4 linked regions of the Homo sapiens genome follow. The protein of the gene in region 3 purifies or fractionates together with the protein of the main gene of each other region. This does not show direct contact. Each region holds a gene or a part of one and is shown on either strand. Other genes may lie near its edges. The genes, in order: ACAD11, CDC42BPA, KCTD17 and PLD1.

Region 1 (7,814 bases), on a different chromosome or scaffold from region 3:
CTTATTTAGGCTCCAGTTTGCTTCTAGCTGCCTACTTTCCTGCTAGTTATCTTGAGCTCCACAGCAGTCCTGAGTGCCAGGAAAGATCCCCATGCCCCTGCCCTGGAAACACATGCCTCCCTTGCTCTCCAGAAGGAGCAGGTACTTTTCCTTCCACCACCACTCACCTCTCACCCCCAGCTCTTTGTAGCTGACTGTGGCAGAGTGCTAGAATAGAGACTTACCTGAGCTTCCTTGGAAGACATGAAAGAGCGAGCAGCCAGCCAGGGAACTGCTGTGGAAAAAGGGATGTTTTATGATAAAATATGTGAAATATTGTGAACAGTAACTATTGCCTTCACATTATCAGAGCCAGGATTAAGTCTCATGCAGGTGCTCATCTTCTTATCCTAATTAAATTACATTTTTTAGTAGTGGTCTAATTTATAATCATAGTGATTACACCAAGATTACTATTAGGGAAGTTATTACTATTATCCTCTGGAGTTTGTGTTGATACTGTTTTACAGTTGTTTTCTAGCCTTAAGATTAGCTCATAAGTAGTTATTAAATTTAATTACAATTAAATCAGTTTCTCTGATTTTTAATGATTCATCATCCTATTTAGATTGATAGAGAATTTAAAGTCCAGAAAGCCTTGTTTTCAATTGGATTCCCCGTTCCCAAGCCTATACTGTACTGCAGTGATACTTCTGTCATTGGAACAGAATTTTACGTAATGGAACATGTGCAGGTAAATTAACACTTAATCTTATTTTGTTGCTTTTACTTTTAATTATGAAGTTAATTAAGATGTTTTATTATGATACTTAATAAATGATATAGTTTGTTATTTAACATTTTAGGTAATTAGATTGCATTGCAAAGGTTTACAATTTTGTTCAAATTTGAGCACTTACAAAGGGAGGGATGGAATAGACAAGAAACAAATTTAGTAATTAGGGGGTATTGACTTATTCTTAAATTTTCCTCTAGGTGTCAGTAAAGAGCTATCTGTAATGGCAATAACCAAATTGTCCATAAGGTAGCAGGGAAAACAGACTCCACATAGGTCAAGCCATTAAGAACAATAAATTCAAAATGTGTTTTAAATTTTTTCTGTAAAATAGTTGAGAGTAGTTTTGATGTTTATATTCATCTTGGCATATCCTTTTATTTTCCCTTTGGCATGTATACTCTAATATTAAATATGTTTCACAAATGAATGTTTTTCTAGTATATTCGACAAAGTATTGATTATACACATTTAAATAATCTGTTGTAATCACTTCCATAGGGTCGAATCTTCCGTGATTTAACAATTCCTGGACTTAGCCCAGCAGAACGTTCAGCCATATATGTGGCCACGGTAGAAACATTGGCTCAGTTACATTCCTTGAATATACAGTCACTGCAGCTGGAAGGATATGGTATAGGTGCTGGGTACTGCAAAAGACAGGTAATGCATCCACATTAATAGCTATTTTTTTCAAGTTCTTGTAAATAATATACCTTATTAGTCAACAAAAAAAGCTATTATTGTATAGTTTTCTGAAGCTTGGCCATGACTTTTAACATTGTCCTTCAGAATGACTAGTTTTTAGTATAAAATTATCTTATGTTTTTATATTAGGTTTTGTTCAGCAAAATCTTCTGTTTTAGACTCTTAATTTTCCAATACTTTTAACTATACAGTTTTTTCTTCTTCTTCTTCTTCTTCTTCTTCTTCTTCCTCTTCCTCTTCCTCTTCCTCTTCCTCTTCTTCCTCCTCTTCTTCCTCCTCTTCTTCCTCTTCTTCCTCCTCTTCTTCCTCCTCTTCTTCCTCCTCTTCTTCTTCTTCTTCTTCTTCTTCTTCTTCTTCTTCTTCTTCATCATCATCATCATTTTGAGACAGAGTCTCCCTCTGTTGCCCAGGCTGGAGTGCAGTGGTGCAATCTCTGCTCACTGCAAGCTCCACCTCCCAGGTTCACGCCATTCTCCTACCTCAGCCTCCCGAGCAGCTGGGACTACAGGCTCCCGCCATCACGCCCTGCTAATTTTTTTGTATTTTTAGTAGACATGGGGTTTCACCGTGTTAGCCAGGATGGTCTCAATCTCCTGACCTCGTGATCCGCCCGCCTCAGCCTCCCAAAGTGCTGGAATTACAGGCGTGAGCCACCATGCCCGGCTTACAGTTTTTTCTTTCTCAATTGGACTAGCAGACATTTATTAAGCTTGACTGTGTGTTTAATACCTGCTGAGTACTGTGTTAAATATCAAGAAAAATATACAATAGGTTCTTCCCCACAGGAACTTATGGTCATTTTTGAGAGACCTGTACATGCATGTCATTCACGAAACCTGAAAATGGTATAAAAGAGTGTAAAATCTAGTGGTAAATTGTTTGATACTCACCATGATTCAAAGGGTGGAAGTTGGGATGCCCTTGCTTATATAGAGAAAGCTTCCTGGGAGAGATATCTTATAATGAGTATTTAAGGAAAGATAAAATTTGGAGTGATGGAGATCATTTTAAATTAAAGGAAAGCAATACTAGATATATATGGGGCTGCTTTCCTTTGTAAGCATATCATTTTGTGGGGGTTAAGGAAGAGAAAAGGGAACTAAAGTTTAGAGTGTACTCACTATATGCTAGGTCCTACATGGCAGAGTGAGTTGTCGGCCTCTCTTTTTTGATCTTTACAACAACTCTAAGATATAGGTATTATTACTCCCATTTTGCAGATGAAGAAAGGGAGGCTTGCATCAATCAAGTAATACACAAGTAAGTGGCTTAGATATAATTTAAACCCAGGTTGATATGACTAGATAAGACCAAGTAAAGGTCTTTGCTCTATTGCACTAAGTTGAGCAAAGATACCTCGGGAAATGGAGATAAAAAAGCAAATAAACAATATGGTCCCACCTGTTGGAGGACTTTACGAGTAAGTTGATTTGTTTGCATTCAATTCTAAGAACAATAGAAGATCTTTACACTATTCATACCTGTAAAATATTTAGAAAATTCTGTGGGTAATAAGAAAGAGTATTAAAATGAAAAGTAGGCTGGGCGCGGTGGCTGAAGCTTGTAATCCCAGGACTTTGGAAGGCCAAGGCAGGCGGATCACGAAGTCAGGAGTTCGAGACCAGCTTGACCAATATGGTGAAACTCCGTCTCTACTAAAAATACAAAAATTAGCTGGGTGTGGTGGTATGCATCTGTAATCCCAGCTACTTAGGAGGCTGAGGCAGGAGAATCACTTGAACCTGGGAGGTGGAGGTAGCACTCCAGCCTGGGCAACAGAGCGAGACTCTGTCTCAAAAAAAAAAAAAGTAAATGTCTTCTTTTTTCTTCTAGTCCCCATATTCCCTTTTTCAGGGGTTACTTATTTCTCGTGACCCTTTCCAGAGATTATCTATGCCTATATATTTGTGTGTGTGTGTGTGTGTGTGAGAGAGAGTGTGTGTGTGCGTGTGTGTGTTTGTATGCATTCTTTTTTTTTCTTCTACAAAGTAGTTGCTGAATAAAGACTAGAACCCATATCTCTTGATCCCTAGGCCAGTATTTTTCTCTTGATAAAAAACTAGGTAAGTAAAATGGAACTATATGGAAAAGAGACTTAAATGTTTAAGGTTTAGGCTGATTTGAGTGTTTTAGGATGACAGGAGTATCACCAGCATGGGTCTTAAGTATTTAGGAGTAAAACAGCATTTGAATTTTGTTTTAATTTTAGAATTGCTAGATCCTACATTCCAGTTTCAGCTTTACCATTTTTCTTATTTATATGTCTTTAGGTATCAACCTGGACAAAGCAATATCAAGCTGCAGCTCATCAGGACATCCCTGCCATGCAACAGCTATCGGAGTGGCTAATGAAGAACTTGCCCGATAATGACAATGAAGAGAATTTGATTCATGGAGATTTCAGACTAGATAACATAGTTTTCCACCCTAAAGAGGTACAGTTAGCTATGTTTACAATTAATTGAGTAGGTCTGTTTTGTGACACAGTACTAAGTAAATGCTCCCCCCAGAGCACTGAGGGAGCCCAACCCACTCCCTGTTCCCCTACAGCTCAGGACTGTCGTCACCACTCAAAATTTTTAGAAAGGAGTCCTGCAGATTTTCCAGCATAAGTTAGCTGCCTACCTTTGAGACTGGTTCTAATCCCAAGTGGTATCTGGTTTACTGCTTAAAAGGATTTGGGAATTTTACATGCATGATGCTGTTTTCTTCAAATAAGTTTTCATCTACTAGTTACAATATTTAGCTTATCCATGTTCTTGCTGTTTTTTCTGGTTCATTTATACTTCTTTGGGGTTTTTAGCCCTATCTCATGAAGAATTTATTATTTGTTTATTATAAACTCTGAGAATAGAGAATTCCAAAAGCTTCTTGAGGCTTCAAAAGAATTACATGAGATTAATATAACCTTGCTCAATGTAAATGTGCATACTGTATTCTTTATAAAGAGTATAAACAAATGAAAGCTGTAATCCTCCACTGAGCACCTACAATGAGGCCTAGGATTACAGTATAGTAGGAATGAATCCTGCTTCTGAGAGGAGGATTTTCTGGGTTCATTAGTTTCTTAGAATGCTAAGATGTTTTAGGGCAGGAAGAGCTAGTGGCACTGATGAATTCTGAATTCTAACCTTGTTAATTATCTACCCTGAGATTAGAAAAATTAAATATGCTAATTTATAATCTAGATAATTATAAAAGCATATGCCTGAAAACATAGCAGGATCTGGCCTGTATTTGATCTGTGTCATTTAATTAATATTTTAGTCGAGTCTACATAATATTGAGTCTCTATAGTAGATAACAAATTAGAACCCACTAGACTTGGAGTTCCTTTAAAACAATGACTGTATCTTATTCATCTTTATATTGCAGGTGCTTATATGATTCTGATGAATCTATGTTGAAGGGATTAATTTTAGTTAATTATTCACTAGCAACTATTTCCATCTCATAAATTTATGCTTAACTTTCATTCCCTAGCAGTGTGAACTTAAAGCATGTTATTCAATCTCTCTCTGTGCCTCTATTTTTATTTTAACTTTTTGTTTTGAAATAATTAGAGTCCCCAAAAAAGTTGTAACAGTGTTATAGTACAGAGAAGTCCTGTGTATCCATCATCCAAATTCTGCAAAATGGATATTATACAACTATGGTACATTATCAAAGCCAGGAAATTGACATTGTGTACCTTTTAAAATTGAAAAAAAAAATTCTGAGTTGCTGGGCAGCTAAAATGAAACAGTCAATGTGGAGCAACTAGCTGGTACCTGGCACATCAATGATGCTCAGTTTATTTCAGGTACCCTCATTTTTCCATTTTTTCCCCTTCATTTTTCTCTCTGACTTTTCTTAGACTACTTGTCAAGCTTCTTCAGAAAAATATTAGGGTATAAGTAAATGCTTCATAATATGTACGAAAACCTAAACAGTGGTTGTAGGGGATAGAATTATAGGAGACATAATTGTACATTTCTGTAATGTTTAGGGTTTGATGTTTTTTGGTTTTTATTTTTAAAACAACAGCATGTTTAATTTTTGTCATCAGAAAACACAACAATTAAGAAAGAAGAATAAACAATTTTAAATGACAAACCTTCCAGGAATGTGTGGAGTAAGCCAGTAAAGGAAACTACAGGATATGGCAAAACGAAATTATTTTCTGTTACTTATTTACAAAGTATTTAAAGCATGTTTGGGCAAGTATTTCAGTAGCACAATAGGCTCACTGCAATGTTGAAAAGAAATCCAGTTTTCCTGGAAAATGTTGATTTTCCAAATATAAATTTTACCAGTAGAGAAATGTTTAAGATCTTGGAGTTTAATGTAAAATCTGCATATTGTCATTTCAACTTGAAAAATATATTTAATTAGAAACATCCATTGGAACTTGTCAACTTCAGTGATCTAGAAATTGAAACCCCTTATTTTTGACCTCACCCTCTTTACCTTCTGTTCTTTTATTTCTCTGCATCTTCCCTGAGACACTGCAAATTTGATTGCTGTTAATTTAGAATCCATAAGCCCTTCATGACTTCACTTGACTTCTTATCCTACATAAGCCACATGGTCATAATCAGTCATCTCAAAAACTACCTTTAGTATCAATTTCATTAATAATTTTTTGACTATAGATGTATGCAAGTAATGTAAGAATTATAAAGTGTCCTGACCTTAGGTTACTTATTATTCTAGAATCTTCCCACCCTGACTTTATATCATCATTATTATTATTATTTTACTTTTTATTTTTTCTAATAACCCTACAGGGGATGTCCATCACCCCTTGACTTTAACCAGTTTCTAGCCCTAAACTTGAATCCTCATATTTTTGCTGCAGAATAAAGTCGTGAAGTAAGGTTAATTGGATCTGGGACATTTTTATGCCACATGATTTTATCTAGGCTGTAACTTCATCTCTTAGTAAAACCTGTGACATTTAAAAAATGGCTTTTCTAAATCTTTTCCCTTCTTCTCAAACTCTCACATTTCTTGTCCCATCTCGGTTCCCACTCTCAGCATGTGGTCTTGTCTTCTACCTAACTCATCTTTGTCCTTTCAGTCATTTTCCAGCATAGCCTGCTTTCTAGGAATTACACCATGCCCCTCAAAGTTCTCTTTATATTGTTGAAGACATTTTCGTCCGCTACACAATATCACCTGTATGCAGATTGATGGGTGATATTTTTCTTTAGCCTCATTGCCAAGAAAATTTGTCCCTCTTGAGCAGCTGGTTTGTTTTTGACCTGCATACACTATAAAGATTGTGACTGACCATGCTTCACACTTTATTTTACCCGCTATAAAATTCAAAGCAAATTTTACTACCCACACTAACAACTATGCATGTCCTATCACATTCAATTATGTGTAATAACCTTACTCCTAGCTTCATCTTTTCATTACAAATTCTATTATTTTCTTCCCTGCCTTCTTCATCTACTGTTTGTTCTGTTGGATTGTATGTATTTTTTGTTTGTTTCGAATGCCAATACACATACATATTAATAAAATTCAATGGTGTAAAAAGTATACATAAAATGAATCTCTTTATAAAGAAGATAATTTAAAAAACTAAAAGCTTTCTGTTGAGCTGAGGTTTCAGAAAAACTATCAAAAATAATTTTACTAATAAGTTCCCTAGCAGCAGTAAGACGAACTAGTAAATGTCCAGATCAACCACTAAAAGTTATGTTGAGCTTTTAATAACTCTCAACACAAACAGGCATCAACAGGACTCTAATTAGCTATTGCTAATTAATTTGCACTAATTTATGCAATTTGATGAGCCATCAGCTTTTCTCACTGGCTGTTGTTTTATAGCTTTGTGTTTTTACCCCAAAAATGGTTCAGATATTCTGAAAAGTAACTCCAGAGAAGTTTCCCAATTGTATTAAAAAAGAAAAGTAATCATTTATAGCATAAGTAAGTGCCTCATCTTTACTTTGGATGTTAAAAGCATAGATAACAAATAGAATGATGTAAGAGAAAAATGCATCCATCCTCTTCAGTAGTTTCACAAATCTAGCTAGTATAGTAATTTATAATACTTATAATATTATAAATTTATAGTATAATATAACCACAATAAAAGCTCTTATAAAGTCATAGAGAAAGGAGTGATCAATTTTTTTCCACAGTAACAATGGCAAAGTTTTGATTGCCTTGCTATATATGCCAAGCTCTGAACATATTCATCAAATAAATACATATTGGCCATCTGTTGTGTGCCAGGTTCTTTGCTAGAAACTCATACATGAACTATATGTGCTACCCGCCCATTTAATCTTCAAACTAACCCTGTGTAAGAGGTGTATATTATGGCTGAGAA
Region 2 (8,435 bases), on a different chromosome or scaffold from region 3:
AGCCCTGGGCCACTCCAGTATTTGAAGATCAAGAAGATAAGGATCATCCAGCGAAGGAGACTGAGAAAGAGTGGCCAGTGAGGTAGGAGAAAATCAGGAGAGTGCGGAAATTAAGTGAAGGAAAGTGTTTTAGTTAAGAGAAGTGATCAGCACTGTGAAATACTGTTAAAGCGGCAAATGAGATGCGGACTGAGGACTGCCTATTAACTTTGGTAATGTGGAAGTCACTGGCAATCTTGGCCAGAGCAATTTCCAGAGTGTGGTAACTGAATTCGTCAACTTTCACCTCCTTGGCTGCCAGCCTCTGTAGGTCCTGGGTGTGTCACCTCCACTCCCACCTCAGGACCGAAGGTTCACACTGGCTTAATTGGTTTGGTTTTGTCACCACACGTTGCAATACAGTCTTTATCAAATGTTTTCTGCTGATAGAATTTATGAAAGAATGCCACTTATCTTTGCAGTGTTCAAATTTGCTAAGTAGCTCTAATAGCCGACAATATCTGTATTATAATGTTTGATTCTAAACATATTTTGGAAAGTCCCATTTATAGTAGAGCTTTAGTGAGAGATTTTAAATGATAAATTTAAAGATAGGGCAAGATGGACAAGATCCATTGACAAGCAAGTGGAAACTATTAGTCTGTATACCTAAGTAAACCTGCCCTAATGAGGGTTGGATTGTTTTTTAACTTCTTGAGGGACAAAACAACAACAGCAACAACCAAAACAAAACAAAACAAAAAACAAATTTGAAAAGGAAAAGGTAAAAACTTCTCCTATGTTTAAATAATGCCACGTCAAAATCTACTTAATGGTTGTTCAGAGATAAAACATTTGTTTTATTGATTTTATTATAGTTTCGGTTAAACTATAACTGTGTTGATTATATGTGTGCAAATTCTGCCTGTTTGCTCTTGCATTCATTTCTTACCCATTGCCTGCTCTACTCTGTCTTTGGGGACCAGTCATGCAGCCTCCCTTTCAGAGGCTCCGTGTTAGCTTCAAATGACAGGAGATTTGTGGTAAGAGGATTCTCCTCCCCTCTCTCTGACTATGGCAGCCTCCCCTGTAGCATTTGCATCTCTTCTGTGGCTCCATCTCCCACCAGCCCTGGTTTTAGCTTCCACCAGCCTAGGGGTGGGAATAGCTTCCTGCTGCTGCCAAACTGGGTTACCTGACTTGCCCTGCATTTCCTCAGCTCTTCCACCATCCATGGAACCATGTGTCAGAATTAAGGTTTCTCTGGTTTTGGTCGGGCACAGTGGCTCACGCCTGTAATCCCAGCATTTGAGGCGGGAGGATCATTTGAGGTCAGGAGTTCAAGACCAGCCTGGCCAACATAGCCCTGTCACTACTAAAAATACAAGAAAATTAGCCAGATGTGGGCCAGGCGCGGTGGCTCACACCTGTAATCCCAGCACTTTGGGAGGCTGAGGCGGGCAGATCACAAGGTCAGGAGATCGAGACCATCCTGGCTAACACAGTGAAACCGCGTCTCTACTAAAAATACAAAAACTTAGCCAGGTGTGGTAGGGGGTGCCTGCAGTCCCAGCTACTTGGGAGGCTGCAGCAGGAGAATGGTGTGAACCCGGGAAGCAGAGCTTGCAGTGAGCTGAGATTGTGCCACTGCATTCCAGCCTGGGCAACAGAGCAAGACTTGTCTCAAAAAAAAAAAAAAAAAGAAAAGAAAATTAGCTGGATGTGATGGCATGTGCCTGTAGTCCCAGCTATTTGGGAGGCTGAGGCAGGAGAATCGCTTGAATCAGGGAGATGGAGGTTACAGTGAGCATGTGATCACGCCACTGCACTCCAGCCTGGGAGACAGAGTGAGACTTTGTCTCAAAAAAAAAGCTTTCTCTGGTTTAAATAAATAGGTGATTTCTGCTTTTTTGGTTGAACTCTGATATAATCATGTGCGTAGTTCTTTCTTTTGCCCTCATATCAACTTCTAATGCCCAAATATGTGAATTAACAACACATCCCACTTCTTCCTTGTTACAATAGGAAGGAAAAGTTGAGTTTATAGAACCTGCAGATTTTTTAGACCTCACTTGCTTTGTGATTAAAGCCATGGGCACTGGCATGAGACAGGCCTGGTGTTGACTTGTAGCTCCTGTGTCAATTACTAGTTGTGTGATCTTTCACAAGTTAAGATCTCTAAGCCTCAGCTTCTTCCATCGTCTGTGATATAGAGGTAATTTCCCTACTTCATATGGTTATGATGATTGAATAAAACATGAGCTCAAACTACCCAGGACAGTGTTTACAGGTTGTTAAGTGTTCTGTAAAGGAAGCAATTATTAATCAGAAAGTTTCTTTTTTATATACAAGCCCTTGCAGTTGATCTCACTCATGTCAGGAGCCTGACATGAAGACAGGACAGGCATTTGCTGGCATTTTATCCTGGGAGGGTACTAAGCCAAGTCATTCATTTGCAGGGTCAGGATGTGGCTAGGCTAAAAGGAGATGTGGTAAAACATCCTCAGTGTTGCTATACATTAAGCCCTACTGTGGCACGCACCTTGTTTTTGGCTCCGTTCTCCAGCAATGACCCTATAGTTATTCTGAAGTTAGATATACCAAGGTGAGAGTGAGGCTGACTGTTATAAATATTAATTGGTGGATTAATTCTCCTGCTTTTAGCCCTGAATTGGAGGATTAGTTGAAGAGAGCTTGTATTGGGGACTAGGCTTAATGATTTCTGTCCTGCCTTCTTCTTTCCACCTTCCTACCTTCTTGTCTTCTCCTGTCCTCTTTCTTTTCTGAATGGTCAGATTAATTCCCAGCATCTTCATAAAACATTCTCTGATTATTTCAAACAAATTGGGTGTTTGCAGTGGTATACATCTAATCTCCAGGCCCCCAAGCAGAATTTCACAAAGAAGACCTCCTCCAGACTATTTTTCCCCAAAGAATACCCTGCGAGGCAGCCTGTGGCACTCTTGTTTTGCAGGAACACTTCAAGCACTGTACAGCTGCTGGGCTGTGCCTTTCTTTGGCTTAAGACCGGTTTCATTAACAAGCATGTTCACACTTCAACCGGAACATTTAAAATAACACCCGCACAATGTGTTTAGTGTCTAGTTAATTATTAAGTCTCTGAGCTTGAATTATTCAAGCAAAATTGATTGGGTTCAAGCTCCTTCCTTCTCTTTGTGTGTGTGTTTTTTAAAATAAAAATAAATTCTGCTCTCTACTTTCTAAATAATGTGGAAAGGGTTATTTAGCAACCATCAATACCCTGGACTGTGGGTGGTACCCAAGCGCTAATAGAATAGGTAAAGAACTGACAGCTTGACTCTTTTGTTAAAAAAAAAAAAAGTATCTACATCTCATATACTTCCATTGTCAATTAGCATTTAGTGAGACCTAACATGTTTTAGGTTCTCCTTTAAACTTCTTTCTAGTTATTTGTAAGTTGGAAAAGCAGGTATCTTGGAGCCATTTCTTTAGTTAACCGTACTTGAAAAAGCAGAAGAAATTGCTTCCTTCTTTGCTACCGCATCTTATGGTCAAATGAAACTGTTAAAATTGGCTTCACCATTAAAATCCATGTTGTTGAAGAATGTTTGTTGAACTGAAAAAATGTCCATAATATATTGCTAATTGCAAGCAAGAGGCTATAAAACTCTTTTATTATGTATCATTTTTGTTAAAGTGCATAGGAAAAAGACTTGAATAATAAACACCAAAATATTGCTTATTATCTGTGTTAGGATTAAACTTTTCTACTACTTTTAGAATTAGACAACACACACCCATATAAAGATGTCATGGCTGGAAATGACTGACCTTTTGTTTGAATCTAAGTATCATTCATGTCAAGACCGCATTGAAAATAATGCTGTTCTTAAGCCAGGCAAGTGTAGACGTTGTAGATTTCATAAAAGATTCACACTATTTCATGAATCACAACTTGAATCGACTTCTGTTAGCCTTCATTTTACGTCTAGGCCCTCATTTCTAATTCTTCCTCAGCTTCCATATTATCAAGATGTAAGATGCAATTGTGGACATGAACATAGAAACACAACCGCCTCACAGGTGTGGGGAAGGAATATAAAATAATTGTATTTTAGAGAACGACCATAAAGGAGATGGCAATTTTGAGAGAAAGTAACAGAACTGCAATGACCTAGTTTTGTGGTGTTAATTTAAATGTGGCATCTTCCATGAGAATTTTATAAAGGGAGCTCTCCTAAAACCGAGATTCACAAAAACCTGGAAGGGCCCTACAGGGATCAGGTGCCCTAGCTATTCAGCGATTTGCCTTTGCTTCCCTAATTCCTGCATTGTGCCACTGGGTTACAAGTGTGTGTGCGCATGCACACAGGGGTGTAGGTTTGATGACAGTGGTGAACTGCCTTGACTGCCTTCACAGGCTGAATCCCCCGCAGGCAGTAACCATGGCTAGGGAAAAACAGGCAGCCGCGAGGACAGTTCCGGAGGAGACAACACCAGGCTCCCGTAGGGAAACTTTTGGGAATGGAGATGGGGGATTCCATCCTTTGCGTGCAGACCCAAGACTTCGATGGTAGCTCGGACAAGTCTGTCATTGTTTTTGTCCTGGGAAATGACACACGAAGTGCTGTAATTAGACACCTAAGAAACGATTACTCTGGAGTGTGCGCGAACCGAATCTGGGGGGCCGGTGGGGAGCAGGTAAGGGGCTGAAAGGCACCGTCTCCTCCAGCTCTGTCGGAAGCCTAAAGCCCTCTGCTTCTGGGCGCCCTTAACAAACGCGCCAGACAGGTGATGTCTCCGAGGACGAGCAGGAGCCCCCCTTCGCGATCTGCACCAGAAGCCTCGGGGAGCCGGGGCCACGGCGCGGCGGTGGCGCAGTTCCCAGCCTGCGCCCAGTCCCGCCGCAGCTCCCGGCGCGGCCCGGTCATCCCGCCTCCATATGCTCCGCCACCGCCGCCCGGGCCTCCCTCAGCCCTCCCGCAGCTCCGCATTCCACGCTGCGGCAGCCGCAGCCTCGCCGCCTAGGCAGTCCACACCCCTCCCCTCGGGCTGGCGCAGCCACTCGGGCCCCGAGCCCGCGCCCCCTTGGGGGCCTCCGCTGGGCGCGCCGGCCGGACCCCGCCCGGCTTGGCCGCCGGCTGGGGCTGAGGCTCGGGCAGGGCGGGGGCGGGGAGTGGAGGGCGTGTGCGCGCGCGTGTGCCGGGGCCGGGGGGCCAGGCCGCCATATTGGATCCAGACTCGTCCGCAAGCCTCCGCCTCTGTGCGGCGGGACTGGAGGAGCCTCGCTGAGCCCAGGGCGCGAGCGCGAGAGGAGAGGGAAGGCGGGGGAGGGCTGGAAGGGAGAGGAAGGGAGTGGTTGGGAGCCGGGCTGCCGCAGCCTCTAGTCTCCTCAGCCGCGGAAGCGACCCCTCCTCCTGCGCCGGGCCGCCTCCCTCCTCGCTGTGGAAAGATGCCCTTAGCCCAGGGGTGTGAAGAAGGGGGAGAAGTAGCTGCCAGAGCCGCCCGCGCCGCCGCCGCAGCTGCTGCTGCTTGTGTCCTTTGAATTCAGAGAAGCACCCCCCCGCCTGGGGCGTCGGGAGCCTCCGGCGCGGCGGCCCGGTGCGGGTGTCGGGGAGACCGGGCTCTCTGCCCGGCGCGGCGCGGCGCGGCTCGGCCCACGAGCGACCACCGACATGGAGTGGGCTCGGGCGGCCAAGTAGCCGCTTCTCCGGAGCCCGGTGCCAGTGCCGCCCGCAGCCCGCCTTCCACCCCCGGCCGCGCCGCCGGTCAGGCCCTAGGGTGAAGCCGGGAGGAAAATGAAGAGTTTTCACCGGAATCCGTTGAAAATAGGACTGACTGCAAAGCCTTAAAGAAAGAAGGACCTCGGGAGGAGAAACGAAAAGCCGCCTCCGGGCAAGACTTGGCGTGCTCCGAGCCGAGGGGCTGCTTCAGGGACCTCGCCCCCTCCCTTTCCCGCTGGAGAAATTGCCGCTGATGCATTATCCAAGTGGTGGTTGGGAGGATTTGCAGCAACATTTTTGGTTTTCCCTCCCCCTTCTATGCATTCTGTTTTTTTCCTCCCTTTTCTGTTTTTCTTCTTCCCGGGAAGTGAATTGCTGATGCAAATCGGACTTTATTCATTAATGATGCAACCGGATTCGTTTCAGGATTACGTTGCACGAGTTGAATTTTGAATGAAGGAGAAGAGTTTTTTTTTTTTTTTTTAAAGAAGTGTTGACTCTCTAGTTCGTTGTACTTTTAATTATTATTTTATTTAAATATACGACTTAATTGTATTCTTTTAAAAATGCATTAAGTATATATTTTATGGTAATTTACCCTCAAAATATATGTATATGGGTGAAATTGAAGACGCTTCAGTTAAGTGAGGTTACTGGTGTGTTGGATGTTTAATTCAGCACCAGCATTGCATGACAGTTGTTTGAATAACAAGTGGTTTATTTTTAAAACCATACCTTTTAAAATTTAGGTTCAGATAATAGTAAAAGTCATCATAATAATTTAAAGGAAAACCAGCAGAAATCGAAGCAAACATGTCTGGAGAAGTGCGTTTGAGGCAGTTGGAGCAGTTTATTTTGGACGGGCCCGCTCAGACCAATGGGCAGTGCTTCAGTGTGGAGACATTACTGGATATACTCATCTGCCTTTATGATGAATGCAATAATTCTCCATTGAGAAGAGAGAAGAACATTCTCGAATACCTAGAATGGGGTAAGTTTGTAATTTTTAAAGAAACTGTTAATCTTTAGCTGGTCATTATGATTTAATTGGTATAGAGAGTTATGAGTAAACTCTACTCCGTTCAAAGAAAAAATACAATAAAAAAACAGACACTAGTTATTCAAGATTTTCCGCTAGTTTTTGGTAAATATTTTCCCAGGAGTAGAATTGTGCTGCTCAATTGTTGCCTTGATTTAAGGCCTAGCTAATGTGGAACTTGGCTATGAAGAACTTATGTTTTTAGGTCAACAGTAAGAGATTTTAAATCAATTCTGTGATGGGCAAAAGTGGATTATTGGTTACAGTTGCCTAATACATGGCACTATAATAGTCCTTCATTTGAAAGGTATTTATTGGTGGAAACATTCAGACTATGGAAATTATTCTCAAAATAGGAGGAGATATTAAAATATCTGTGTTTGCCTTAGGTCAACAGAAAGCTGAAGGTGGTGATCAGTGGGTTTTATTTCATCTCTACATAGTACAAGGAAAGGAAACTGCTAAACATGGACTTTCCAAAAATTATGTTTGTAAGATTAAATGACATAGTTTAAAAATCTTGTGATAGTAGTTAGAGAATGTTTGGGGGCAGCTTCCACTTGAGAGTTAGATTTTACTCGAAAGTTAATTTAAATCTAAACTGGTTAGGTTTTTGGCTTCATTCTTCTAAATATAGATGTGATTTAGAAGACCTACTGTAGTGGAATAGATCAATGATGTGAGCAAACGCTCCATGACCTTCAAGCTTGAAGGCTTGGCTCAAGTTCTTCAGCGTCTGCTGTTACATACAGGGCACATTCTAAGGTCCAGAAGTTCACTGTTGCAATAAGCACGCATCGTCACCCAGATCTGTCTGTAGTAGTGGTACGTTGGCTTTTGAAGGATTTTGGCCAAATATGATTTTGTACCTTTGGAATACTAATCATTTTAGTTTGTTCTTATGCTAAGTTCTTATGCTAAAATATCTGTTCCCAAGTAAAACTTTATTTTCCTGAAGTAAAAGTCAAGTGCTGATTGTGTCTTTTTTTTTTTTTTTTTTTGGATTTGAAATTTATTCAAAGTTAGTTTCTCAGGTAAACCACTGATACAAGAATGTCTACACGTAATAACTTTAATTATTCAATTTGCCAGTATAAGAAGGTTTCTAGCAATGTGATGTCATAAGGTTTAAAAAAATATGTAAATGTGAATAGAATAACTTTTCAAAACAGACTGCCAGACTCATCCTGGGAATGTAAGAAATCTAAACCATCTTTCAAGTAACTTCTCACTTAAGAGTGAGACAATTTTGGCTTTGGTACTGGTTTTGTGAGTATACGTCTTTTATTTGTTGAATAAAGTATTTTGTAAAGCATATGTAGTTTTACATCCCATGTTTCACAAATTGAGAAATTCTGTAGTGTTAATTTTTTTTTTTAAGACTTAAAGGGTTTTGGTACTTTTAGAGTTGGAACTTGAGTTCTTAAGTTATGGTTCCTTAATGACACTCTAGTCTGTGATTTTTGTCATTTAGTATTCTTTCCTATCTGCGAAGCTATGGGAGAACTCTATGTACCAGTAGTAAATATAATTTTAAATGATTTATGATAAAGAGAAAACTGTATCCTCCATTGCCTTCTGATTATTAGAGTTTAGGTAAGTAGTTTTATGTTATGAGATATTTCGCTGTATTATCAGAATAATTTATATATATTTTCCATTAAATATGTTTTCTTGGATGTTGTTTCTTATATATGTATAAGAACACCTCA
Region 3 (7,814 bases):
AAGGTCACAGAGCAGGCAGAAAAGAGTGGGATAGGGGGCTTGTGGGCACATGGCCAGGGCTTTTTCTGCCACTCTGCAATCCTTAAGCCACTCTGGCTGACACTTCATGGGCCAAGGGTATCCAAAAGTGGCCTGTCCTCCCCATCCCCACAGAAATAGGGGATGCCACAAGGCAGTGACACAGGAGCTCCTGGATGTGCAGGGACTTGGCCAGGGCCTCTGGCTTCAGCGGTCCCTCCCTCCCCACCAGCCTGGCTCTGGTGCTGATGGGCTGGTAGGAAAGTTCCCACTCCCTAACTTTCTTCTCCTCTCAGAGCCTCACCCCCAAGGCCAAGGTCGGATGAGAAACTTTGGTGGGTGGAGATAATCAGCCGAAAGCTCGGCTCAAGTCCAAGGATCAAGAGATGAGCACCCTCCTCGCTCCACCCCTCCCTCCAGCACCGCCAAGCTACAAACCAGGGATGGCAGCTCTGGGGGCGGGCGAGGGGCCGAGGAGAAGCCCTCACTGCAAGCTCAGCCTCAGGTCTGAGAGGGTGCGGACGGGAACCTGCAAGGAGGAAACGTGAGGAGGAGGCCGGGAGGAGAGGAGGGGGGGCAGGGCCTGCAGCCAGGGCCCAGTCTCAGAGGTGCCCGGCAGGGTTAGTGGGCACAGAGGAGGTGCAGCTGCGCCCCTCCTCCCCAGGCTGGGAGGCAGGAGGTACCAGAAGGGGCGCAGGAGGCGGCAGGCAGGACGCTCTGGGATGCAGGGCCAGGGGGCCTGGGTGGAGGGCACGGGAGGCTGGGACCAGGGCAGACCCGGGATGGAGGCGTGAGCAGGCAGAGAGAAAACCCGGACAGGGGCAGAGAGGGAAGAGGCAGGGTGCAGATGAGATCCAGGAGGAAGAAGAGGTGGATGAAGATGAGGCAGGACCTCCAGCGGGAAGCGGAGGAGGAGGCAGTGGTGGGAGGGAGAAAAGGTTAGCGGGATCCTGAGATGACTGGGCTGCAAAGAGAAAGTGAGAGAAGGGATGGTTATGCGGGTGAGGCGCCAGGCAAGTGGCTGAGCTAACCCTGGTGCCCCCCCAGCAGCCCCGGGGCCCCCGGTTCTGCAGCTGGCTCCAGCAAGGAGTGGGCGGGAGGCTCCGGCTTTGCTTAGCAATCATCCTCCTGGGGGTTGGCTGCACCTTTCTCCTGTGCATCTGCCTCCACCTGCACCTGTTCCACCTCCACCTCCTCCACCTCCTCCTCCTGCTGCTGCTGCTCCTCCAGCTGCTCCTCCGTGCTCTGTGAACCAGCCGGCGGACCCAGGGAAGAAAGAGTGGAGACACTAACAGAGGGGCCAGGGCCTGCTGGCTATCCCCAAAGACCCGGTCTCAGGCAAGGTGAAAGGGACCTCAGGAGAGGGGAGGGCTCCAGCCACAGAAGCTGGGGGCATCTTCTCCGGTCCCCTGGGCAGCTTGGGGAGGGCCTGGGGAAAGCAGCTGAGGATGGGATGCTGTGGGCATGCTCCGGGGTCAGCCTGGCTGCTGTTACATAGAGCGAGGCTGGAGGGAGGGGATGAAGCAGAACAGGGAGGGTGTGGGACTGGGGTATCCCTGAGGGGTGCCTGGGAAGGCCTTGTTTGGAAAGACTGCTCCTCAGTAGAAATGTGGCCAAGGAAGCCCCAGGGCAGACACCACCCAGATCTGGGATGCCAGCCAGTCTCTGACACCCCAGGTCCAGGGGCTTTGGCCCAAAGAGGCAGAAGGAGCAGTCTCGCTCTGCACCCTTGCAGGGCAGCGTCAGCCCTGGCAGTGGTGGGGGTGGGTGGGCAGGCAGGGTGCGTCACAGCAGGACAGGGAGGCAGACAGATAGACAGGAAGCCAGAGGTAAGCCTCCACTGTGTGGGGTTGGGCCCCAGGAGGAGCAGCCTGCCTTCTTCCCAGCCTGGTTCACGCCTGCTCTGTGGCTCTGCGAAGGCCCTTGGGACTTCCCACAGCACTGGGTCCAGGATGGCAGGACCCCCGCTCAGCCCTCTCCCCACAGTGGTACAGTGGATGCTGCCAGGGTGCTCTCAGGAGGCTGCCTCAACAGGCCAGGCGGACACACAGGACTGGCAGCCACCAGGCTGCCCCTATCCTGCAGAGCAGCCAAGGAGGGGGCCTGGGAAAGGGGCAGGATTTACAGCGGTGGCTTCCTCATCCTGGCTCAGGCCAGCTGGGGACATGCACCTGTCCCTGGGGAATAAACGGCCATTTGGGATCCCAGAAGTTCCAGGCTCCAAGGCACTACAAAGAGTATGTGATCCTCCCCTCTCACTTCAGAGAGTGCAGCAAAGGTGCTGGGAGAGGACAAGCCCTGTCCTAAGTCACACAGAGAGTGCCACACTGTGCCCTGACCCCTAGTCCATGCCACAGTGCCCAGTGGCCACTAAGCGGCCCCCTTCATGTAGCCTCTGAGTCCACGCCGGCTGCACCCTGGGGATGCTCTCATTTCACTGCTCCCAGCCTGGGCCTGGGTAACGGCAGGTGGCATGGGATGGATGGCGGTGGCTGTGAGCATGGGGTTGTGCATGGGCGGTGGCGGGAGAGAGGTGGAGGGATGGTGCAGGCGCAGGGGCGGGACAGGCGGGGAGGGTGGAGGGAGACAGGAGACTTCTCCGGACACAGGCTGAGGCGGGTGGGCTCACCTTGGTTTTGCGGCTGGACTCTGAGCTCAGCCCGTTTGGGGTGCTGTGGAGCTCCTTGGACACCACACACAGGAACTCTGCCTGGTCCTCGCTGCCGTAGTTGTAGGAGGAGCCGATGTTCACCAGCTAGAGGGGCGGAGCATGGGGAGAAAAATGCAGGTTGGTGTTGGGGGCCGTGGGGCAGGATACGACAGACCTCGGCACTCAAATCAAGATACCAGCTCAGGTCCTAATCTTGCGGCTTGTCGGGCCCACTCCTGGGTTTGTAGAGGGCACCTCTGGGCAGGAAGGTGGAGTCTTCCCCCTTGCAACCTGTGCCTGTGGTCTGTGCCCCAGGACCAGCCCCTCCGCCTGGCTTGGCTGGCCCGATCCCTGGTGGAGGGTGGCAGCATTACCGCTGTCCCCACCACCACCTCCAGCCTAGCCCCAGAGCCAGGGGGCCCTTTTCTAAATGCAGGCGGAGGCCTCTAAAGGGCGGCTGTCCCCCATTCCAGATGTGGCTGACACAGCCCCAGGACAAGGTTGCAGGGTGGCATTGGCAAGGTGGAGCCCCACAGAATATTCCCTTCACTCCTGGAAGCAGAGGTGGGACGACAGGTGGTCCACTCCTGAGACCAAAGGGCAAATGACCAATGGTCCCTGGCCTGCTTGCTCAGCCTCTGAGAGCCTGTGCAATTGCCAAAGACACCCAGAGGCTCTCAGAGTGGCCCTGCCCTTGTTCCAGGGTCCCTAGAATAACCACGCCCACAGAGCCCTTCTGGCTAAGAAATAAGAAAGTTCTTCCAGGTGATGAGTCTCATTCAGCTCTCAGGGACCCTGAAGAGAATCTCAGGCCTGCTGAAGGCCTCACAGCTAGGAAGGGGTGGAGCAGGGAATGGCATCGGGGATCCCAAGTCCTCTCTGAGTGTTGCAGACTTCAATATGGATTTCTAATGATTTGCATGACACTAATGCCAACATAGGGAGTCCTACGGAGGGCTGTAAGCTTTACTGATGGCCCTTCTAATCTCACAAGAGTCCTACAGAGGAGGTACTGTTAGCCCACTTCACCGATGAGGGAACTGGGTCCCGCACAGGAGATGTAACTTGCCCAAGGTGGCAGGCATGTCTGTGGCAAGGCCTAGAGGTGAAGCCAGGCCTCTGGCTCTGCACTAGGCCCATTCTTCCATCCCTCCAGGCCATCCTGGGGGCTCCGACCTTCTGCCTTGCAGTCTCCATGTGCCAGGGAACGTGTGGGTGGGCGTGGAGAAAGGCTAGCCAACCCCCTCTCCTTCTCTAAAGGCACTTTTGACCCTGGGCTCACTTTCTGGCTCTGCTCCTCTGGAAACCTGAAAGGTGGGAGGTCAGCTGCATGACTAGGGATAAAGTCCCTCGGGATAAGGATCTCCCGATGGGTAAACTGCATCTGGACTGGGAGGAACCACCGTTCACCATAAAGACCTCATGGGAAGGCACTGCTTTGGGCTCCCCTGCATGTTGCAATGCTGGCCACTGGGCATGTCCCCTGCGGAGACCCTGAAAACTGTGTCAGGAACTGCTATGATCGCATGATGCTGACTCTGAGTTCTAAGAGGTACTGACTCAATGTGGACTCCACTCACCTATGTGGATCTGGTCTCCTTGCACCTGAGCTGTCCTTCGGGGGCCACAGACTCACTCATGCCACCAGATAGATCACCACCCAGTTGCTGTGAGGACTCCCACCAACAAGGACACCCCGTGCTGTCCTATGGCCACTGGGGCTCCTATCCTCTCTCTCGGTCAACCTGCCACCAAGTGTGGTCTCTCCTAACCTTGTTTAATTTGATTTCAGAAGAACCCTGGGGTTGGGGGAGACTGTGGTGGGGAACCCAAGGCTGGGGCTGCAGGAAGGGAGGGGCCTGCTTGGTCAGAGGCTAGGAGGTCCCAGGGTTGTCCTGGTGGCACGCCCCTGTCCCCAGCGCACCTGCTCGAAGCGCCAGCCATCAGACATGGTGGAGACCATTTGCGTGAGCTCCTCCTCCTGGCACTGCAGCACGCGGTACACGTGCTTGGGTGGGACCTGTGGGCAGAAGGGTCACATAGAGGGCACCTGTGGGAGCACCAGGCACCCCAGGAGGGGCATGAGCACCTGCTGCCACCACCCCCGCAACATACCCAAAGAAGAAGAGAGGGAGAGAAAGAAGAGGTGGTTGGGGGGAGGCAGCCATGCTCTGAGCACCTGCTCCTCACCAGGCATTTACCAGGCACCATCTCACTTAATCCTTCCAAGAATCCTAGGCATTACGGGACTTTCCATTGAGGCTCAGAGAGGTCCAGTTACTTGCCCAAGGTCACCCAGCTCAAGGGTGAAGGAGACAGAACCGGAACACGGGTAATTCAAGAAAGAACATGGGTGGGGCTTAGGGAACATTCTGGGTCACCCTCAAGGAGTCAGGCCCTCAAGGAGACACGGAGCCTCCCCTCTTTAATCCCCTGGGCCTGAGAAATGGTTCCTCACTACCTGTCCCCCAACCCTCACACATCCCCCAGAGTAGGCGGAAAATCTCTTTCCCTCCTCCTGCAGACTGGCCAGGGAGGCCCAGGCTCCAAGGTCACAAACGCCAGCCCCAACAGCCTGTGCCGAGCCCACCAGGCGACCATCTGATGCCACAAAAGGCACAATTTGCTAATCCTGCATTTTCCTCTGCAGGGCACCCTGTACCTCCACACTGACCCCCTTCTGCCTATGAGGAAGGGATGGGTGTGCCATTCCCACCCCTCTCTATCCCATAAGAGAAAATCAAGGTCCGGAGAGGGCGAGCCTGGCCCAACACACAGCAAATGGGGCTGAGACAGGGACTGAACCCCAGTGTCCGTCTCCGAGTCTGGGGCTGTGCTGGGCAGCCTGTCAGCCCAACCATGCCTCTCCTTACAGGCCAGCTCGGCCTCCCCATGACAAACACTGGTCCTGTCTCTCCCAACCTCCTCTGCTTCCCGCCCCGTCTCTCAGCCTCTCTCTCCCCACTGGCCCCTGCCCTGGCCGTGTGTGCTGCCCCTGCTCCCGACCTGGGTGACCGTGTAGTCCTTCTCTTCCATCCGGTCTTTGATGATGCGGATCAGCGGGCCGATGTTGTAGAACTCGGCTTCCTCCAGGACCCCTGGCACAGACAGAACAGATCCCAGGTCACTCCTTCTGCCTCCATGCCCCATTCTCCTCTTGTTCCCTCCACCCCGAAACCCACCTCTCGCTCTGATCACCCGCCCTGAGGGTGAGCTGAGTGTCTGTGAGTTCAGGGGTCAAGTAAGAGGGAGCATTTCTTTCCTTGGATCCCACACTTCCTGTGGAAGGGGCTGAGGGGCTGCCACACAGCTCTGCTGTGCTGAGTGCGGTGACCCAGGGGTACCTGCCAGGCCACCGTCTGGGGCAGCTTTAGGGCTATCAAGAGACAGCAGGGTCATTGGGACTGATCCCCAGAATGTCACCATGAGCAGGGCCTTGCCTGACCCCTGATTATGTGCTCCTATTTATTAAGCACATTCTAAGTGCCAGGTGCATTACATTTTTGAATTCTCAGAACTAGAAGGAGGTACTTTCATCATCTGCATTGAACAACTGGGAAAACTGAGGCTCCCAAAGAGAAGCAGCTTGTCCAAGGTCACACAGCTGGTAAGTGCCAGAGGGAACTCAAGCGCTGCAGACTCCAGAGCCCATGTCTCCCCACTGTAAGCACATACCCTTGTGTCCATGCATTCCCCCAACTGCCTCACCTTACAGTTTGCAACACCCTGCACGAGCTCATCACAAGTCCAGGGATATGAGGAGAGCAGGCATTACTGTCCCCATCTTACAGTTAAGTTAATCTGGGAGATGAAGAAGTCAGCCCACCAGTGAAGCGATGAGCTTGCAGCTGTTTCGACTCCCCTAGGCTCCCAGAAGGCAGGGGACCTTTGGGCCCTTTCCTTGACTGGCCTCTGGGCTCCCTGGGGACAGAGCTCATTATGAGCAGAATGTGTGTGTTCCCCAAAAATCCACCTGCTGAAAACTGTGATGGGATTAGGAGGGGAGGTAATGAGATCATGGGGGTAGAGTCCCCAGGGTAGGATCAGTCTTCTTATAAGAAAGGCTAATTGGATGTGAGGGCGATCTGGCGGGGACATCTGTCACTCCACTGATCACCAGGGTTGATTTAGCTGATCTGGCTGGCTAGATGTGTGTCCCCTTCCTCCCTCACTGCTCCAGGTGTGTCCCTCCCGAAGCTGTGAGCTCCATCGAAGGGGGCGACCACCCCCGATAGAGGAGGACCGGACTTTGGTCAAGGGTATGTGAGTAGCTGCGCTCCCCTGCTAGAACCTCCAAACAAGCTCTCGAGAAGGGGCGGGCGAGGGCTAGCTCCCTCTCTTTCTGCCATGTGAGGACACAACGAGAAGTCAGCAGTCTGCAATCCGGAAGAAAGTCCTCACCAGAACCTGCCACAGTGCCCCGATCTCGGGTTTCTAGCCTCTAGGACCAAGAGAAATAAATTTCTGATTTTCATAAGCCACCCAATCTATGTTACTTCATGATTGCAGCCTGAAATGGCTAAGATGGGGCTCACATTTCTGATCTGCCCTCTGTCCCCGGTGCCCACACAGGACCAAACACAGAGCAGGAGGTCAGGGAGTGCAGCTGCCTGATTACGAGAATTATCCCCAGTGCCCTGGGCGGAGCCCTGCAGGTGACAGACAGCTAGCACTGCATCCCACATCCTCCGGCCAGGAACTGAGCTCCATGCTGCACTATTAACTCCTTTTATCCTCATGACAGCTCGGTGAGGTGGGTGCTATGGTCCCCCATTTCACAGATGGGGGCATGCAGACACAGAGGGGTTAGGTCACTTTCTCAGTGTCACACAGCTAGTAAGTCTCCTCTCAGATCCCCTATCCCCTGGATGAGCCCTAGCCCTGTGTATCCCCTAGCCCCCGGATAGCCCTGCGTGATCCCCTAGCCCCCGGATAGCCCTGTGTGATCCCCTAGCCTCCGGATAGCCCTGTGTGATCTCCTAGCCCCCAGATAGCCCTGTGTGATCCCCTAGCCCCCAGATAACCCTGTCTGATCCTCTAGCCCCCAGACAGCGCTGTCTGACGGTGTGGGAATAGCAGGGCTTTGAGAATGCAGGGCGTGTAAACAGGTGCTGGCTGCGACGCAGCTGGGGTGTTTACTTCCCTC
Region 4 (7,746 bases), on a different chromosome or scaffold from region 3:
TTTGTTAAACAGTCTGGCTATGGCTTTTTACCTTTTCTCTTTTAAAAGTGCATTTCTCAGCTGGGTATGGTAGCTCATGCCTGTAATCCAGCACTTTGGGAAGCCGAAGTAGGAGGATTGCGGGAGCCCAGCTGTTCAAGACCAGCCCTAGCAACACAGTGAGACGCCATCTTTATAAAAATACAAACAAAACTGGCCAAGGATGGTGATGCGCACCTCTAGTTCCAGCTACTCAGAAACTGAGATGGGAGTATCACTTGAGCCTAGGAGGTCAAGGCTGTTGTGCCACTACACTCCAACCTGGGCAACAGAGTGAGACCCTGTCTCAAAAAAAAAAGTTTAAAAGGTGCATTTCTCTAAAGCTACGAGAAGGAACTCAAACCTTGCTTAGTGATAAAACTAAAGCCTGCAACACAACCATTATCATTAAAATGTTATTAAAACCCTGTAAGAAAGATGAAGAGTCTTGTGGATGGATGGTGGTGACGGTAGCACAACGATGTGAATGTATTTAATGCCACTACATGTACACTTAAAAATGGCTACAATGGTAAATTTTATGTTGTACATATTTTACCACAACAAAAGTGAAATTATAAGAGAAAAAAAATTTTTTAAAAAAACATCCTGTAAGAGAACATTTATACACTGTCGGTTGGAACGTAAATTAGTTCAGTCACTGTGGAAAGCAGTTGCAGATTTCTCAAAGAACTCAAAACGGAACTACCATTCAACCCAGCAGCCCCATTACTGGGTATATATCCAAAAGAAAATAAGTTGTTCTACCAAAAACACACACAAATTCATATGTTCACCACAGCACTAGTCACAATAGCAAAGACATGGAGTCAGCCTAGATGCCCATCAACTATGGACCGGATAAGAGAAAATGTGGTCCATATGCATCATAGAATACCATGCAGCCATAAAAAGTAACACAATCGTGTCCTTTGTAGAAACATGGATGCGGATGGAGGTCATTATCCTAAGCAAATTAATGCAGGAACAGAAAATCAAACATTGCATGTTTTCACTAATAAGTGGAAGGTAAACATTGGGTACTTATGGATATAGAGACGGCAACAATAGACACTGGGAACTACTAGACGTGGGAGGGAGGAAGGAGAGCAAAAGTTAAAAAATTATCAGGTACTATGCTCACCACCTGGGTGACGGGACCAGTTGTACCCCCAACCTCAGCTGCATGCTGTATGTCCATGTAACAAACCTGCACATGTACCCCCTGTATCTAAAATAAAATTTCAAATTATTAAAAAAAAAAAATAGGGTCGGGTGCAGTGGCTCACGCCTGTAATCCCAGCACTTTGGGAGGCCGAGGCGGGCGGATCACGAGGTCAGGAAATCGAGACCATCCTGGCTAACACGGTGAAACCCCGTCTCTACTAAAAATACAAAAAATCAACCGGGCGTGGCAGCAGGCGCCTGTTTTCCCAGCTACTCAGGAGGCTGAGGCAGGAGAATGGCGTGAACCCGGGAGGTGGAGCTTGCAGTGAGCCGAGATCGCGCCACTGCACTCCAGCCTGGGCGACAGAGCGAGACTCCGTCTCAAAAAATAATAATAATAATAATAATGACAGTCCTACTTTTCCTTTGTAACAAAAATAAAAGTTACCTATAAGAGTTAAAGGTAAATAAAATTTGTAATTTTAATTAAGAAACACTAAGTAAACATACAACTTCCAAGAAGCCGGGTTCCCCACTACCTGGTTATAAGTAAGTCTACAAACCTAAATGAGCATTGTACAGCGCTTACTATAGTTCATAATTATTCTGTCATCAGGGACAAACATTGTAAAGACACTTTTTCCTCAAAGCCTTAGCATTCAATTTTTTTTTTTTTTTTTTTTTTTTTTTGAGACAGATTCTTGCCCTGTCGCCCAGGCTGGCGTGCAATGGCTCCATCTCGGCTCACTGCAACCTCCGCCTCCCGGGTTCAAGCGATTCTCCTGCCTCAGCCTCCCGAGTGGCTGGGATTACAGGCGTGTGCCACCACGCCTGGCTAATTTTTGTATTTTTAGTAGAGGCGGGGTTTCACCATGTTGGCCAGGCTGGTCTCAAACTCCTGACCTCAGGTGATCTGCCCGCCTCAGCCTCCCAAAGTGCTGGGATTACAGGCGTGAGTCACCGCGCCCAGGCAGCACTCCAACTTTTTATATGGATTGTTAACTGTACTGGTTCTTGAGAAGCCAGACTGAGCGCTTATACAATTAGTCCAAAGATCCCCAAACAACATTTAAAGGCTGTCTACAAATTCAAGCTAAAAGACTGTGTACAAATTCATTTGTGTGTCACAAAACATTTAATACTGAAAGAGATTCTTATTCAAATAGGCAGTGTGTAAATGTGGGGTCTGTTAACAGTTCAAATTGCAGATTCCTTTCCTTCTTTAAGTTTTCATTGCACCACCACGAACTAAACCATTTAACATACCTCAGAGGTCTCTGGGTACCTAGTCTCTCAGAGGCCTTTGGAGGCCCACGAAGGCTTATCTTAACTAAAATTGGCAGGGCTGGCTGATAAAGTTAACGGAACTCCCCATTTTGGAGGCAGACTTAGTAATGGTCAAACGAAGAAACTGTTGTGGTCTGTTCTTAAAAAGCTACTAGTATTTAGTGCTTCACAGAGGAAGTAAAGAAAGCAATAATCCGAGATGAGGAGGAGCAAATACAGGCGTGGCGGTAGTTCAGGACTGAGTCTACAAGGGCGGTTCTCAAGGGCGTCACAAAATCCTATGGAAGGCTTGGAGGACGGCACTCCTGGATCTGAGCCCTACGTCCCAAACACCTTCAATCGTATTGTGAGGAAGAAGACCTTTTACACACTCCCTGCTGCTGGCCCCCGGCCCCCTCGCCCCACCTCCGAGTGGTCACATCACACGGCGGGAGCCGCGGTCAGCAGCTGTGATCACACCCCCAGGACCGTGCTCTGCGGGCTGGGCTCGAAGCCTTGGGACGCGGCACTTCCTGGTTGGTACGGGATGCCGGTCCCATCGCCCCCACCAGCCCAGTCATGCCACCGCGCACCCGAACCAAGGGCGCCCGGATGACCTGGGGACACCACACACACTGCACCCGAAGCCCTGTGGCGGCGAGGCGGTGCATCCTGCAGAGGACGCCTGGGCTTCAGCCTGAGCCTGCGCGGCTCTGCGCTCCAGGCAGCCGCCCGCGCGGCAAAAGTGCGTGCCAGAGTTGTCAGCTTTCACCCTGCAGGAATTCCACCCGAAGGCGTGCGAGGGAGGCCCTTGGGGATCGCTAGGGAGTCCGCCGCCGACTCACTCGCTGAAATCCCGTCCAAGTTGGGCGGGGAGCGGCCAGCTGCCCAGGTTGGGCGGAGGAGGGACGGAGGGCGAGGGCAGTGGAAACCCGGCTCCCACGGGCGCCCGGTGATCCGGGTCTCGGCGCGGCTCCTACCTGCAGGGCGAAGGGGCCGCTAGCACCTGCGCGTTGGCGGCGGACTCTCAGGGCTCGGGTGCCTCTGGCACAGCTGGAGCTCAGCGGGAGGGAGGGAGAGAGGGCGGGCCGGAGGGGGCTCTGCGCTGCGCGGCCGGCAGGAACTCTCCGCCCGGATTCGCCCCGGATTCGCAGGGGTGGAGCGAGGCGGTGCCAGGTCCCGGGGCGTCGCGGTGCCGGCTGGAGGCCCCAGCGGGGCAGGTCTCGCGACTGGGCCTCTGATCGCCCGCGTTCCTTGTTCTCTTTTCCCAAAGTTTCATAACTCGACCGCATCACCCTAGGGAATGCTCGCTATTAGGACCATTATCAGGTCCTCTCGAGCCGCCAAGGACCAGCCACCTTTCCCGGAGCTTTGCCTATGATATCTATTCTTCGACTACTGCGGATAGTAGCCACAACTGGTCCAACTTATAAGTAAGGAATCAGCAAATCAAACGGCTAAATAACTTGCCTGAGGTGACATAATTAAGAGACTGGAGCTTTGCTGGAGTCTTTATAAGCCTTCTTGCACCTCCTTAGGGAAGTGTTATCGCCAATTTACAGGTAAGGAAATGAAGGCTCAGAACCAGCCCGAGGTCACACAGCTTAGATGGAGGGGGACGGGAATTTGTGTCCCGATGTCTCTAAAACTGGTTATAATTCAGAAATCTTAGCATAAAATAATAAATTGGGAGCAAAACAGGGAAAAGACCCATTCCACCTATGGAACCGTTCAAACACGGCAATTTTGCTGTTTTCAGTCCACTTAGAATAAAGTCTTAAGAAAAAGAGAACCAGTTGTCATGTGGCTTGAATAGCAGCCCTTTGGGAATGTAATTTTGAATATAGGCCAGTTCCAACCTCATTACACGATATTGCATCCCGCCAAAGCCAGGGGAAGCAATGGCCTCCCCATGCACCAAACTGCTAATAACGTCAGCCACTTTAAAGCATTTAGTGGATATTACACAACTGCGACTGACCAAGTTACATAATGTCTTACTGCACACATGGCATTGCATGAAATGAAAAATATAATATACCAGTCCAAATTAGGGGAGGGGGGCCAAATTATAGTCTGGAACTCAGTTTTCCTGTAACCTACAGTTGCTCAGCCCTCCTTAGACCACATTTTTGTCTCTTGAGCACATCTTTTCCTAATGATAGAAGAGTCACACAGCCCTCACTCTTTCCTTGTTGACATAAATGATTGATGTCTTTTGAATCCTATGATACTGACAGATTTTTACAATTAAACACATGACTCTCTGAGCAGAGTATTGCCTAAGAGGAGTTTAGTAAGTTTCAGACAAGCATGTTACTGGAAGGCAGAATACCCTCTCTCCTCCCCTCTTTCTCAAGCTTTATTAGTCACAGATGGTCTGATAAGTCTTGTGCACACACGTAACTGCATTCTTACAAGCTTGTCTTTAGAAATTATAATGCTTTTGGTTGAGAAGCAGCAGTCTATAAAATTGCATCCCAAATTCTTAAGTGTCACTATGAAAACATTTGGCACTTGCCTCCAACAATAGGTCTTTCTACTAAATCTAATTAGAAATAAAATTATCAAGGCCAAGCGCAGTGGCTCACACCTGTAATCCCAACACTTTGGGAGGCCGAAGCGCGTTGATTACCTGAGGTCAGGAGCTCAAGACCAGTCTGGGCCACATGGCGAAACCCCGGCTCTACTAAAAATACAAAAATTAGCCGGAGGTGGAGGCAGGTTCCTGTAATCGAAGCTATTCGGGAGGCTGAGGCAGGAGGATTATTTGAACCTGGGAGGAGGAGGTTGCTGTGAGTTGAGATTGCACCACTGCATTCCAGCCTGGTGACACAGCAAGACTCTGTCTCAAAAAAAAAAAAGAAAGAAAGAAAGAAAGAAAATTATCTAAGTGCCCTTACAATAACTGAATTTCTGCCTCCCTGGGATAGAGGAATAAAATAGGAAATGCCATATGTTGTTTAGAGATGAACTGAAGCTTATGGACTCCCAAACATGAATTTTAGAAGTAGTATGATTTTGTATGTAATTATTTTATTTTCCTGAGAGATTTTGTGATTTTTCTTTCCAACTCTTTCATATCTTCAAAGATGTCAAGAAACAGTGACTAAGTAATCATGCTATACATTCATCTCAATATGCACTTGACATTTTTGTCAAAGTGGTATTTGAAATCCTTTTAATTGTTCTATTTTCTTCTGAGAATAAAAACATATATGTTCATTTTTATAATTTTAACATCTATATTTTAGAAAAAAAATTTTACATCTATGTTTTAGAGACCACAGAAAAACATTTTTAATTAAAATCACCTATAACTCCCACACACACACTCTCTATTAGCATTTAGTATATTTCCTTATTTTTTCTATGCCCAGAGGTTTGTTATAAAATTAACACCATGCTTTACAGAGTTTAGAATCTTCCTTATCTCACTAAGTATTTATAAATTGACTATTTTTTACTGTTATTAAACTTTCTTTAAGATATCATTTCTGTGGTTGAAGAATATTACAATCATTTATCAAATGTTTTAGGATATTTTCAGACTTTATTGCAGTTTACAAATCATGCTAGAATGAACACTACGTTGCATCATCTTTGTCAAGATCTCTACATCCTTAGGATAGATTCCTAAAAGTAGAAATACTGGATCAGCATTTAGAAACATTTTTAAGGTGCTGTGTGATGCTGCAAAAATACCCTCCAGTATTAAATATTGCCTTGCTTATAACCTGAAAATGTCACGAATCAAAATCATATCTTGTTTTAATCAACTTTTTTATAATCAGTAATGCTGAACACGATTTTTTCATGTTATTATTTGTACCATTTACTGAAAATGATCTATTCATGTCCATTACCTGTTCTTTTTCTATGGTAAATTAGTTTCTTGTTAATTTGCAATAATGCTTTCAACAGAAACAGAACTATTTTATCAAAGTGACATACAAATGGTGCTCCCCCAGATTTTCCCTTGTGGTACATTTGATACAAGCACTGCCATCCAGATCATCTAGTCATTTTGGGATACCAACATCTATCATCTTTTCTGACAGTTCCATTTTCTTATAGAAAATTACCTCTCCCCAAATAGGCATAGGCCTGGCAAGACAGCAATTTCAAGCAGTAACCTCAAAAGTGAAGGTCAGATCCTTCTTCCATATTCCCACCACCATTCCATTTACCCTATAGGCCAGGTGGACTGAATCTCAGGGGATGAGGGAGCCGGTGATCTTTGAGGTTGAGCTTATTGAACAGAGACAGAAGCGGCCCATCAGCAGCTTTACCCTGACCAGTAAAACCTAGGAAACTTTTACTTCCTAGGTTTTGTGGGTCTTTTTTTTAAATCTTTTTGTTGCTTCCTTAGTTCCTGCTGTTCTTCCACTTTGTCTTGATTCTGTGAGGCCCCGGTGCCCTTTTCCTTCAGAGAGCAAGTCTGCATTCATTATTTGTCCCCAATAATCCTCACTGACATAATCTGTATGACTTCTGTGCCCTTCAGTCCACCTGACAGTCTGTGGATTAGCAACTACTCATTTCATTCATTCATTCGCAAACATCTAATTGCTAATGTTAATTAACCAATGCACATGTTTCTCTAGAGACATGGAGTATAGAGCAAGATGTTGTATCCCCAGTTACCTGATGACATAAATCACTTCAACCACCATAACAGTGACTCACTGAAAGATCAGAACAGTGTCATTAGTGAGGCTCAAATTTTTTGTAAAAAAATGACAGTGGTTAACACCAAAAATCTCAAGAGAGAATGAGGAACACAGCAACACAGCAGATATTGCCAAGATGTGCAGAGCATTGTGTTTCTGTATCCTCATTTCAGCTTCCTGTGGCCCATTTGTATGTTTCATCATTTTTTCCAGCAACGGTCGACTTGTGAGCTGCCTAGCATGTGACTATAAAGGTCCCACACTGACGCCTACAGCTCCCCCTGCAATACCAAAGATAAGTCTTCTCAGTCACCCATAGCCAGTCCCTGTGAAGCTTTTTCATGTCCAACAAGCCCAAATGGATCCCACTCCCCCTATCTAATGACTTTTTTGAAATATTTCTGTATTTTCAATGTTTACATAACCTTTTTTTTTATACTTTAAGTTCTAGGGTACATGTGCACAACATGCAGTTTTGTTACATATGCATACATGTGCCGTGTTGGTGTGCTGCACCCATTAACTCATCATTTACATAAGGTATTTCTCCTAATGCTATCCCTCCCCCAGCCCCCCACCCCACGACAAGCTTCGGTGTGTGATATTCCCTGCCCTGGGTCCA

Evidence for each region.
Region 1: the proteins of KCTD17 (region 3) and ACAD11 purify together in Homo sapiens (affinity purification with mass spectrometry; 4 studies listed by BioGRID and IntAct, with this or other methods). This does not show direct contact.
Region 2: the proteins of KCTD17 (region 3) and CDC42BPA purify together in Homo sapiens (affinity purification with mass spectrometry; 4 studies listed by BioGRID and IntAct, with this or other methods). This does not show direct contact.
Region 4: the proteins of KCTD17 (region 3) and PLD1 purify together in Homo sapiens (affinity purification with mass spectrometry; 4 studies listed by BioGRID and IntAct, with this or other methods). This does not show direct contact.

The regions. Positions count from the first base shown.
Region 1 is NC_000003.12:132,635,596-132,643,409, reverse strand, and holds part of ACAD11 (acyl-CoA dehydrogenase family member 11), read left to right. Parts: intron 1-607; coding exon 608-733; intron 734-1,276; coding exon 1,277-1,438; intron 1,439-3,753; coding exon 3,754-3,918; intron 3,919-7,814. UniProt on the Homo sapiens protein: Acyl-CoA dehydrogenase, that exhibits maximal activity towards saturated C22-CoA.
Region 2 is NC_000001.11:227,315,245-227,323,679, reverse strand, and holds the start of CDC42BPA (serine/threonine-protein kinase MRCK alpha), read left to right. Parts: upstream 1-5,187; 5' UTR 5,188-6,497; coding exon 6,498-6,675; intron 6,676-8,435. UniProt on the Homo sapiens protein: Serine/threonine-protein kinase which is an important downstream effector of CDC42 and plays a role in the regulation of cytoskeleton reorganization and cell migration. Regulates actin cytoskeletal reorganization via phosphorylation of PPP1R12C and MYL9/MLC2.
Region 3 is NC_000022.11:37,054,272-37,062,085, reverse strand, and holds part of KCTD17 (BTB/POZ domain-containing protein KCTD17), read right to left. Parts: intron 5,767-7,814; coding exon 5,675-5,766; intron 4,689-5,674; coding exon 4,593-4,688; intron 2,774-4,592; coding exon 2,648-2,773; intron 1,264-2,647; coding exon 1,164-1,263; intron 983-1,163; coding exon 911-982; coding exon of another isoform or gene 548-910; coding exon 457-547; coding exon of another isoform or gene 294-456; exon of another isoform or gene 1-293. UniProt on the Homo sapiens protein: Substrate-adapter for CUL3-RING ubiquitin ligase complexes which mediates the ubiquitination and subsequent proteasomal degradation of TCHP, a protein involved in ciliogenesis down-regulation.
Region 4 is NC_000003.12:171,806,968-171,814,713, forward strand, and holds the start of PLD1 (phospholipase D1), read right to left. Parts: upstream 3,517-7,746; 5' UTR 3,432-3,516; intron 1-3,431. UniProt on the Homo sapiens protein: Function as phospholipase selective for phosphatidylcholine. Implicated as a critical step in numerous cellular pathways, including signal transduction, membrane trafficking, and the regulation of mitosis.